Linked DNA regions of Homo sapiens. The protein of the gene in region 1 purifies or fractionates together with the protein of each later gene. This does not show direct contact. Each region holds a gene or a part of one and is shown in the gene's direction. Other genes may lie near its edges.

The links. Proteins that work in one complex are often made in the same cells at the same time.
Region 2: the proteins of PMEPA1 (region 1) and PHLPP1 purify together in Homo sapiens (affinity purification with western blotting, with the first as the bait; one study listed by BioGRID). This does not show direct contact.

The regions. Positions count from the first base shown.
Region 1 is NC_000020.11:57,698,973-57,704,543, reverse strand, and holds part of PMEPA1 (protein TMEPAI), read left to right. Parts: intron 1-5,571. UniProt on the Homo sapiens protein: Functions as a negative regulator of TGF-beta signaling and thereby probably plays a role in cell proliferation, differentiation, apoptosis, motility, extracellular matrix production and immunosuppression.
Region 2 is NC_000018.10:62,895,971-62,900,550, forward strand, and holds part of PHLPP1 (PH domain leucine-rich repeat-containing protein phosphatase 1), read left to right. Parts: coding exon 1-41; intron 42-4,580. UniProt on the Homo sapiens protein: Protein phosphatase involved in regulation of Akt and PKC signaling.

The DNA.
Region 1 (5,571 bases):
CGGAGGCTGTGCTGCTGCCAGCCTCGGGTTCTGTACGGTGCACATGCTGAGAGAAGGAGATTGAAGCCGAGGGCCCATTTTTTGCTTTTTACAAAGTGTTGCGTAACGCACGCATGGTTGGGGCACGTGCGGGAGCTGTGCGGGAGACGGACCTACTCTTCATGCACCCTCTGGAGTGACAAGGATGGTACCATGCTGTGCCAGGGGCTCCCCGAGGCTGGGGGAGCATGGTTCAGGGAAGCAAACTCAGTTGTCTTTGGGGTGGGCTCCAGGGAACCAGGGGCAAGAGTCCAGTTTAAAGGCACTGTGGCCACTGCTCAGCCCACCATTGCCACATGGGCCCTGAGTGGCCAGATCTTTCCGTTCCAGGGCAGCCGAATGGTTAGATTTTGACATAAAACTCCTGGGTTTTAAGTGCTGGCAGTTCCTTTTGTCTCCCCTGTCACCAAGAAGCCCCACAGAACCTGCTGGCAGACCCCATCTGTCTCATCAAGTGACCTGCCCTGCTGTGGGTGGGTTAGGAGTGAGACCGAGGGCCAGAGGGATGGAGGCGTCAAAACTTGCTGGCCGTGTCCCCTTTGTGCCCCCCTTCACTGTCATCTGATGGGTCTGTAAAGTGGGGTGATAATAGTCCCTGTGCTGAGGGTGCAGAGAGATTCTGGCTGTGTGTGGCCTAGTGTCTGGAGCAGCTGTGTGTTCATAGAGGTGAGCGATGATGGTGGGGCGGATTGGACTCGATGGTCCATTCTGCCTGGTTCCCTAGCGGTCACTCTGTAACAGAGTGCCTAGTGATGAGAAGGCCTTCACCAGAAAAAGGTTGCCCATCCTCGGACTGGCTGGGAAGGTTGGAATCAACAGGCCCATCTGGGGCCCATGGCCTTGAACATGGAGGTAATTGACTATCTGTGTAATACTCCTTGTCCTTGCCAGGCCCACCGCAGACCTGGCTGGCAACGACCCCAGCATGCCCGTTGCTGGCCCAAGAGGCCCCAGACGGTCTCTTCGGGTCTGCCAGCAGGGTTCCCTTAATCCACTGCCAGGCTTGGTGGACAGAGGCTGGAAGAGGGGGTACAAGGCAAGGCACAAAACTGGGGCCGTGAGGTCAACACCGCCCTGACGTCCAGATGCCCCACTGGCTGCAGTTCCTAAGACAGCCTAACCTGGGAGCAGAAAGCCCAGAAGCTTCTGATGGTTTGGGGCTCCCCTTTGTGAGAATCAATTGAAATTTTTAACAGGTGATCATATGTGGGGGCAAACCATTAAAAGAAAGGCCCTGATGTCCCCCACCCCCATCAACAGGTGCAGCGGGGGAGGGCCGGGGAGGGGCCGGTCTTCAGTTTCACTTCTGCTCCAAGCACTCCTTCCTGCCTTCTCCCCAGGGTGGGCTGCACCCCTCTGTGAAGCTGTGACAGTGCCGAGTACTGACAGTCAACCTCATTTTCCCGTTGGATGACACTACAAAGCCAAACCTTGACACCTCAGGGGTCTCGTCAGGGTCTTGTCAGGCAGGCACTGGCAGAACTGTTTGTCACCAAACCGGGAAAAATCCCAGAATGACTTACCAGCCAGGGCAGGGGCTTCAGCACCCTGGGGTGAGCCTGGAAGAGCTTGGGGCATCCCCAGACTATCCGAGAGCCACAGAATGGCTTCTCTTTTCTGTTCCTGGGTTACTGATGGATTTTTTTGCTTCTGCTCTTTTTCCTAGTTGAATGTGAAGAGATTATTATGTGCCAGGTATTAGTGACGCATTTTTCTCAGTGTTCAAAACAACCCTGAGAGAGCTATTGCACCAATCTGCGGATACAAAAATGGGATCAGAGAGTGTAAGATACTTGCTCGAGGTCACACAGCCAGGAACTGATGCTCCATTGGGATTCAAACGCAAGCTCCCTGACCTTGCAGTCCACACTCCCAGGCTTTCTTTTCCACTACACCGACCTCCTGAGCTCCAGGGCTTTCTTTGCAAGATTGGCCATTGCAGTGCTATTTTAGGCTCCCAAGACTGCAAGCCCATATTGGACCATTTGTTAGGGAAGAACACATACGAATTGGCCACCTCTCAGAGCAATTGGGTCCATTCTGCTCTGGCAAGACACCGGCTGACATTCATTGGAAATGTCTCCCCAAAACACACGTGCCTTGTCAGGCTGCATGAGGAGCTGGTGTCTCTGTCTCCAGCTCTCTGTGCATCTCTGACATACCAGCACCAACAGATGTCGTGGCGGGGGTTTGGGGAGTAGCTGGGGAATGTTCCCAGGGAATCAAATGTAGACTTGATAGGGGACATCACTAGACACAGCCTCCGCAGGGGCTCAGCGTTCAGCACCATCTGCCACACACCTCTGACCTCCGGTGCTGTTCCCAGGGCCGCAGAACGTCAGGGAACGACACAGACAAATTCCTGCCCTCTACGAGCTGCTGCCCTTGTAGGGAGACAGGTGAAAGAACACGAGTCATTTCAGAAGGGAAGCTGAGAGGCCACACTCAGAGGCACCTTCAGGGCCTCGCCTAGGGAGACCCCCAGCCTGGTGTCCTGTTTGGGGCCCAGGAGCACCCTGGCCTTCCTCCTGTCACACCTGTCATGGCAGTAATCGAATCTTTGTGTCATTAGCTGTGCCATGTCTGCTTTCCCTCCAGGCACCAAGCACCGAGGGGTTGTTGTTGGTTGTGTCCCTGAACCTGGTAGGAGTCTCATGTGCGTTGGATGAAGGGAGGAAGTGGGCAGGTGAACTTTCAAGAGATTCCAGATTCTTGTGGTCAAGATACAGGCTTTGAAGACCTTCATTCTGGGGGTGAGCGTGGTATCCTCCCGAGTCTCCAGTTGACCCTCTGTGAGGTGGAAGGAAGAATGACATCTGTTCTATGGGGTTGTCAGGACCGTTACCTGAAAAGCACCTCTGGTACAAAATGTGATTTTTAATGCTCCAAAGTTTCCACTATTGGGGGCAGGAAACTGTGCCCGAGTTTCATACCTGCCCTCTCTTCTAGAGCTAAGGGGCAGGTACAGAAGTCAATGCAGACCCACCTCCCCTGCACCCGCTCCAGTTGCCCTGGGTGGTCAAGGTTTCACAGTGATGGCTTTAGTCCTCCAAAGGCCATCAAATGGCAAAAACGCATTGCCAGAGCTTGCTGCAGGCCCCCAGAAGGAGAATTCCTAGGGTGATTCTTCTTGGCACACACTTGCTGCAGACTGGGAGTGTTTTGGGGTTATTGTCCTCACGGAGGAAGGTGGAGTTTGCTCAGAGGTGATGTTGAGATGCCATATGCTGGACCGAGCTAAGCAGCTATTGTGACTCAACTTCGGCGGTATCAGGTGGTGATCAGCTATTCCTAATGCTCCAGCACATTCTAATATGTACCTGTTGTTAATGGGAATGGGGGTAGGAAGAAAGGTGGCTTGGAATCAGTGCCTGCCATAAACTAATAAGGATGTCAGAAAGATTCGAACTATAGTCTGATTTTCTTCTCTTTTTTTTTTTGATGTCTTCTTTTTTCTTTTCTTTTCTTTTTTTTTGAAATGGAGTCTTGCTCTGTCACCCAGGCTGGAGTGCAGTGGTGCGATCTCAGCTCACTGCAACCTCTACCTCCCGGGTTCAAGTGATTCTCCTGCCTCAGTCTCCCAAGTAGCTGGGACTACAGGCATGAGTCATCACACCTGGCTAGTTTTTTTGTATTTTTAGTAGAGACAGGGTTTTGCCATGTTGGCCAGGCTGGTCTCAAACTCCTGACCTCCGGTGATCTGCCCGCCTCAGCCTCCCAAAGTGCTGAGATTACAGGTGTGAGCTACCATGCCCGGCTCCTTTTTTGATGTCTTTTAACTAAAATCATTTGTTATTGTTTCAGTGGGCTTGGGAAATGGCTCTACTGGCAGAAAAGAGAATTTTATTTAGTAACAAGTTGAAAATCCCCAGTGGCTCTGGGATCTGGATGGTGGATAAAGGTTGATTGTGACCTCCACGAACCAACTCTTCACCATCAGCAAGAAACACCTCGCAATCCTCCTTAGCAGTGGTGCTAGACTCCCCTTGGGCTGGACGGCCACAGCTAGAACCACCTAACAGCCATGCAGGTTCGAGATGCCACTTTGCCTTTTAAGTCTTAAGAAACTGTCCTATATCATTTGCCCCCACTATAGGCTTTTGGGGCTTCAGGGGAGGTGGCTGTGCCAAGTGCTTATTTGTGTTGATAAAAGTTGCACGATCTTGGCACCAAATAGATCAATAAACATTTTGACAGTTGGTGGAAGTGGAGTTATTGTGTACCTCAGTTTCCCTGTTCCCCCGAACATGTTCGGTAAAGCATGGGCCTGTGGAGGGGTCTGTCAGTGGCAGCTGTCAGCCTCTATTGTCATTGACAGGTTGTCATGGATTCCCAGTATGCAAGTCGCATCAGCATCAGGAGTGGAAGAGTCTCTGCTGGTCCTTAAGGTCTCCAGGAGGGGCCAGTTCCATCACTGGCTTTGGGAGCATGAAAGTGACAAATCCAGCCATGAATTTGCCTGAGTGTCAGTGGTTAAGAATACAAAAAGGTGTGTTTTTATATTTAGAGCCACGTATCTTCAAGTATATACAATATACATTTGTATTTTATGTATGATATATGTAAAACGCGGACTGTCGAAACATGTGCGTTCCAACCGCCGAGGCCGGGAGGCTTCTCTGAGGTCCCTTGTTGGAGTCCACCACGGACATCCCACCTCCCACAGGTGTGTCACAGGGTGAGCTCAGGTGAGCCTGACCTTCTCCCAGCTTTGCCCCGGGTTCCCCCAGGCAGGTGAAATCAGATTTTCCAGGCCATGTCCTCGGCAGCAAGAGAAGTAGGAAGCTGAATCGGTTTTTCAGAAATTTTGAGCAATGCAAACTGCTCTTTCCCCCAGGAGGTTTTCAGCACCAGTGGTCTCAGTTGCCTAGTTACCCCTCTGCTCATCTAGACCAAATCCCGAGAGACTGCCCTGCACCCCACACGCCTTGCTTGGCCTGTGGGGCAGTCCTGGCACCTGGTAGTTGCACAGGGAGAGAGACTGTGGCGGGGTCCTGGGGCTCTTTAACATAGCTCAGCCGCTTTCTAGATGTGGAGTCTTTGGTCAGCTCCTTACTCTCCCTGATCTTGGCTGACTGATTTATAAACTAGGATTTATAATTACTGCACGGAGGTGATTAAACAAATTGTCTTTTAAGCACCTATCACAGGGCTAATTCCTAGTAGATGCTCAATAAATGGCCACGAGAGTGTTGGTGCCGATGGTAAGTAGGGATTGGTGGTAAGCAGGATGGCTGCCCGAGAGTGTGAGCTGGGCGGAGCTCAGGTTGGCTCCTTCTTGCATCAAGCTGCCCACTAGGCTTGCACATCCTTGATGTGGGCAACACCCACAGACTGCACAAGCTGTCCCATAAGGTTCAGATGCCCAGACAACAAGATTCGGTTCGAGCCCTGTGGGGTGATGCATTCCAGAGACCACACTTCCTTTAGGGAGGCTCAGAATTTGCATGGGGCCACAGCAAACGCCTTTCTTCATTCCCCTGAGTTATACAGCAGGTAGCAGAGCTTCAATCTGAAACACCTCGTGGATGT
Region 2 (4,580 bases), on another chromosome or scaffold:
GCTTTAAGAAAAATGCCTCACATTAAACATGTGGATCTAAGGTAACCATTTTTGAGAAATAGATCTCATTTGAGTGGCTGGCTTATATTGCAGGGGTGGGGAGTAGGTTATTAACCAAGGCAAACAAGCTGGGTAATTGAATGTGGGCCCGTTTTTCTATTTCTGCCTAGAGGGAAGAATTATGATTAATAGTAGGGTTTGCTATTACTGGAAACTCTCACTGATGTATGTCTTGAAGGTCTTTGTTTTGCAGATTGGAACCCAGTTGAGTGAGAGAGCTGTTTTTTGTTGTTGTTGTTGGTTTTTGTTTTTTTTGTTGTTCTTGTTTTTTTTTTTTTTGAGTCAAAGTCTCGCTCTGTCGCCCAGGCTGGAGTGCGGTGGCCTGATCTCGGCTTACTGCAAGCTCCGCCTGCCAGGTTCATGCCATTCTCCTGTCTCAGCCTCCCTAGTAGCTGGGACTACAGGCACCCACCACCATGCCTGGCTAATTTTTTTGTATTTTTAGTAGAGACGAAGTTTCACTGTGTTAGTAGCCAGGATGGTCTCGATCTCCTGACCTCGTGATCCACCCGCCTCGGCCTCCCAAAGTGCTGGGATTACAGGCATGAGCCACCATGCCCGTCCTGTTTTTTGTTGTTGTTTTTAAAGAGATGGGGCCTTGCTCTCTTGCCCGGCCTGGAGTGTAATGATGTGCTCAGAGCTCACTGCAGCCTCAAACTCCTGGGCTCAGGTGATCTTCCTGCCTCAGCCTCCCAAGTACTCAGGCATGTTCAGTTTCATCAGTGTAAAGGAGCATCACCTTTTGCTCCCCTTTCTTCTCCTTTCATATGGTTCAGCCTAGGAAACCTATACATTCCAGTCCCATAAAGAATTGCTTGGCTTCACCTTTCCTCAGAATAAAGGAATCAGACCTGTCCCTCCTAGGGAAGTATTAGCAATTTGCAGATATAAAATTCTTAATTTGGAGGTAAAAGTGGTTATAATTTATCTGATTTTTGAGAATTTCTTGGAATGTGACAAGATAAGGAACTCTAAACACTTTGTTAACTTGCTTTCTAAATTGTTAACATTATTTGCCTCTTGAGTTCCTTGTATTTAGAAAACCCTCATATTCCAGAATTTGAGCCCTATTTTATTCATCCACCAGTGGTAGAACTTCATTAGAGCCAAGGACAATGGCTTGCACTGACCTCAGGTAGTAAGAATGAGATGATTTCTGAGTTACCTGGTACATGTAGGGAGACATCATTTTTCTTGATCTGAATTAGCTTACACATAAGATCAATCTGAAATGTCTGGAAGTAATAAATCTTAGTAAGAGCTTTATAAATTCTTCAGATTCATAGTTCTAACTTGAGTTTTTAGATGACATCACCTACAGGATATTTAAATACCAGAATAGACATTAGACACTCTGTAAATGTTGCATGACCATGAGTAACTGCTTCCTTCCTGGCTCCTGAGCTGAGGAGGGGAAAATCAGATAGGTTTGTTCTAATTCTGCCTTAATACTTTATTTGTTGTTTATTGTTTTTGTTTTTGCTTCTGTTTTCAGAGATAGAGTATCTGTCTGTCGCCCAGGCTGGAGTGCAGTGGCATGATCTCAGCTCACTGCAACCTCCACCTCCTGGGTTCAAGAGATTCTCCTCCCTCAACCTCCCGAGTAGCTGGGATTACAAGTGCCCGCCACCACACCTGGCTAGTTTTTGTATTTTTACTGAAGACAGGGGTTCACCATATTGGCCAGACTGGTCTTGAACTCCTGACCTCAAGTGATCCACCTGCCTCGACCTCTCAAAGTGCTGGAATTACAGACATGAGCCACCACACCCAGCCTAATTCTGCCTTAATACTTAAAATCAAAGCTAGTGGAGTAATTTAAGGAGAGTCTTGCTTAGTTTCTCTAAGTAAAGGGCCACTTTTATTCAATTTTTTTTCCCTTTAAATGGAAATGGTACATCAGATTGATTATTTTTTTCTTTGCATTGATGTTGTTTGAGTTTGATATTATTTCTTCTGTGGCATCATTAATAATTCCTCCTCCCTTCTCCTCTTTCTCCTCTTTGTACAAAGTGTGGCTGTTACTTCTTGGTCAGTTCTCTTTCTATCCATGTTTTCTGCCTTGGGGGTTGCATATACTCTCAGGCTTCATTTTCACCTTTCATCTTGATGTTAATCATTCCCCAGTCTTTCCCTATTCCTTCTTTGACTTCTTGAGACCAGTTCCACTTAAGCTGCCAGCTGGATAACTTCTTGGTTTTCCCTATTCACACATTTAACCAAATACATGTAAAACAGAGTTCAGTGTCTTTCTTACTCAACCAATTCTTTCTCATGGATTTCTTTTTTTGCTGATAGCAACACCACCTCATTGGTTTTCCAGACACACAACTCTTGGCTGATTCTGTCAGCTCTTCTTTTACATGAGTTTCTGTCTTTTATCCCTTCCTTTTTCTTCTCACTGTGACTGTTGTCTTCTACCTGAGCCATTTGCTTCCATTGTGCAGCCTCCCAAGCAAGCACAATTTTGCTCAGAGCCTGCGGTTCTCTAGTTCAAGGTACTCAAGCCCTCATATTTGGTTTCAGCCCACTGGTATGTGAGTCATTTGAGGATGAGGCTCTATCTCTGAGCTGCTCATGTGTGGGCCTCCAACCTGTGGTGGCAAGTTAACTATTTGCTACTTTTCCACAATGAGATGTGTACAGAAGTTAAGACTAATATTTTAGTAACATATAATGATTTGACATTGCCACAATATCCAACTGCATTACGAGTTGATTCTTGCTGTACAGGGAATCAACTAGTTTTTTTTATTTTGTTTTATTTATTATTATTATTATTATTTTTTGAGACGGAATTTCTTGTTGCCCAGACTGGAGTGCAGTGGTGTGATCTCGGCTCACTGCAACCTCCGCTTCCCAGATTTAAGCAATTTTCCTGCCTCAGCCTCCCAAGTAACTGGGATTACAGGCGCCCATCACCATGACCGGCTAATTTTTTGTATTTTTAGTAGAGACAGGGTTTCACCATGTTGGCCAGGTTGGTCTCAAACTCCTGACCTCAAGTGATCCAACTGCTTCGGCCTCCCAAAGTGCTGGGATTACAGCCATGAGCCACTGCGCCTGGCCTCAACTAATTTAGATGTTGTCAAACTTGCACAGTGAGTTGCATGTGATGTGAGCTGTGTATGGGTTGTGTACTATACATCAGTCTGTCATGAATTACAACTTTAGAAAATAGGTCTCCTTCACCATAGATAATTTAAGCACTGTTTTTATTTATCCTTCAACCCCAGTGTGAGTCCTTAGTAGGTCCAGTCCTTGGTTAATTGCCTCACCCACCTTTGTAGCACAGACCCTTGCATCCCCTGCCCTCCTGTAGAAGCTATTCAGGCAGGCACCAAACTTGCCCTGTGCTCTTCTGTTTGATGCAGAGGCTGTTCCATTGCTTCCTCGCACCTGCTTTTCTTCTCCCATGTACACCTGTTCCATTCTGCCTACTCTTGGGAATCAGATGATTTGCTTCCTTTTCCATAGCCTCTTTTTTAAAAAACCATTCTCTACATTTTATACATCATTCGTGGCACTTACCACATACCTGTAGTTCCTGTATTTTATAAAACATATTTGACTCTCCTTACTAAATTGTGAAATCTGTTGAAAAACACCTTGTTTTATTCATCTCTTACTGCAACAAAGCCATAGGTCATCATCGTTGTCACCATCACCATAGCCCTTCTACAGGCTGGAGTGCAGCGGTACAAGCGCAGGTCATTAGAGCCTTGATCTCCTGGACTTAAGTGATCCCCCTCCCTCAGCCTCCTGTGTAGCTGGGATGAAAAGTACACACTACCACACTTGGCTAATTTTTAAATTTTTTAGAGAGATGGGACCGCAGTTTGTTGCCTAGGCTGGCTCAAACTCTTGGGCTCAAGTTGTTCTCCTGCCTTAGCCTCCCCAAGTGCTGAGAATTACAGGCATGAGTAACCACGCCTGGCCAGAAGGGAATTTTCATCATATTTTGCCTTTTAAAAAGTTTGTCTGGGCCAGGTGCAGTGGCTCCTGCCTGTAATCTCAGCACTTTGGGAGGCCGAGGCAGGTGGATCACCTGAGGTCAGGAGTTCAAGACCAGCCTGGCCAACATGGCAAAACCCCGCCTCTACTAAAAATGCAAAAATTAGCTGGCTGTGGTGGCATGTTCCTGTAGTCCCAACTACTCGGTAGGCTAAGGCAGGAGACTTGTTTGAACCCAGGAGGCGGAGGTTGCAGTGGGCCAAGATCGCACCACTGCACTCCAACCTGGGTGACAGAGCAAGACTTTGCCTTAAAATAATAAATAAATAAATAAATAAATAAATAAATAAATAAATAAATAAATAAAAAGTTTGTCCTAGTTACATCATGGTGACTGTGGTCAACAATATGTTGTAGTTGTTTGTATTCTTGTTTTTTCTTTTTCTTTCTTTTTTTTTTTTTTTTTTTTTTTTTTTTGAGACAGGGTCTCACTTTGTTACCCAAGCTGGAATGCAATCACAGCTTGTTACCCAAGCTGTGGTGCAATCACAGTTCACTGCAGCCTC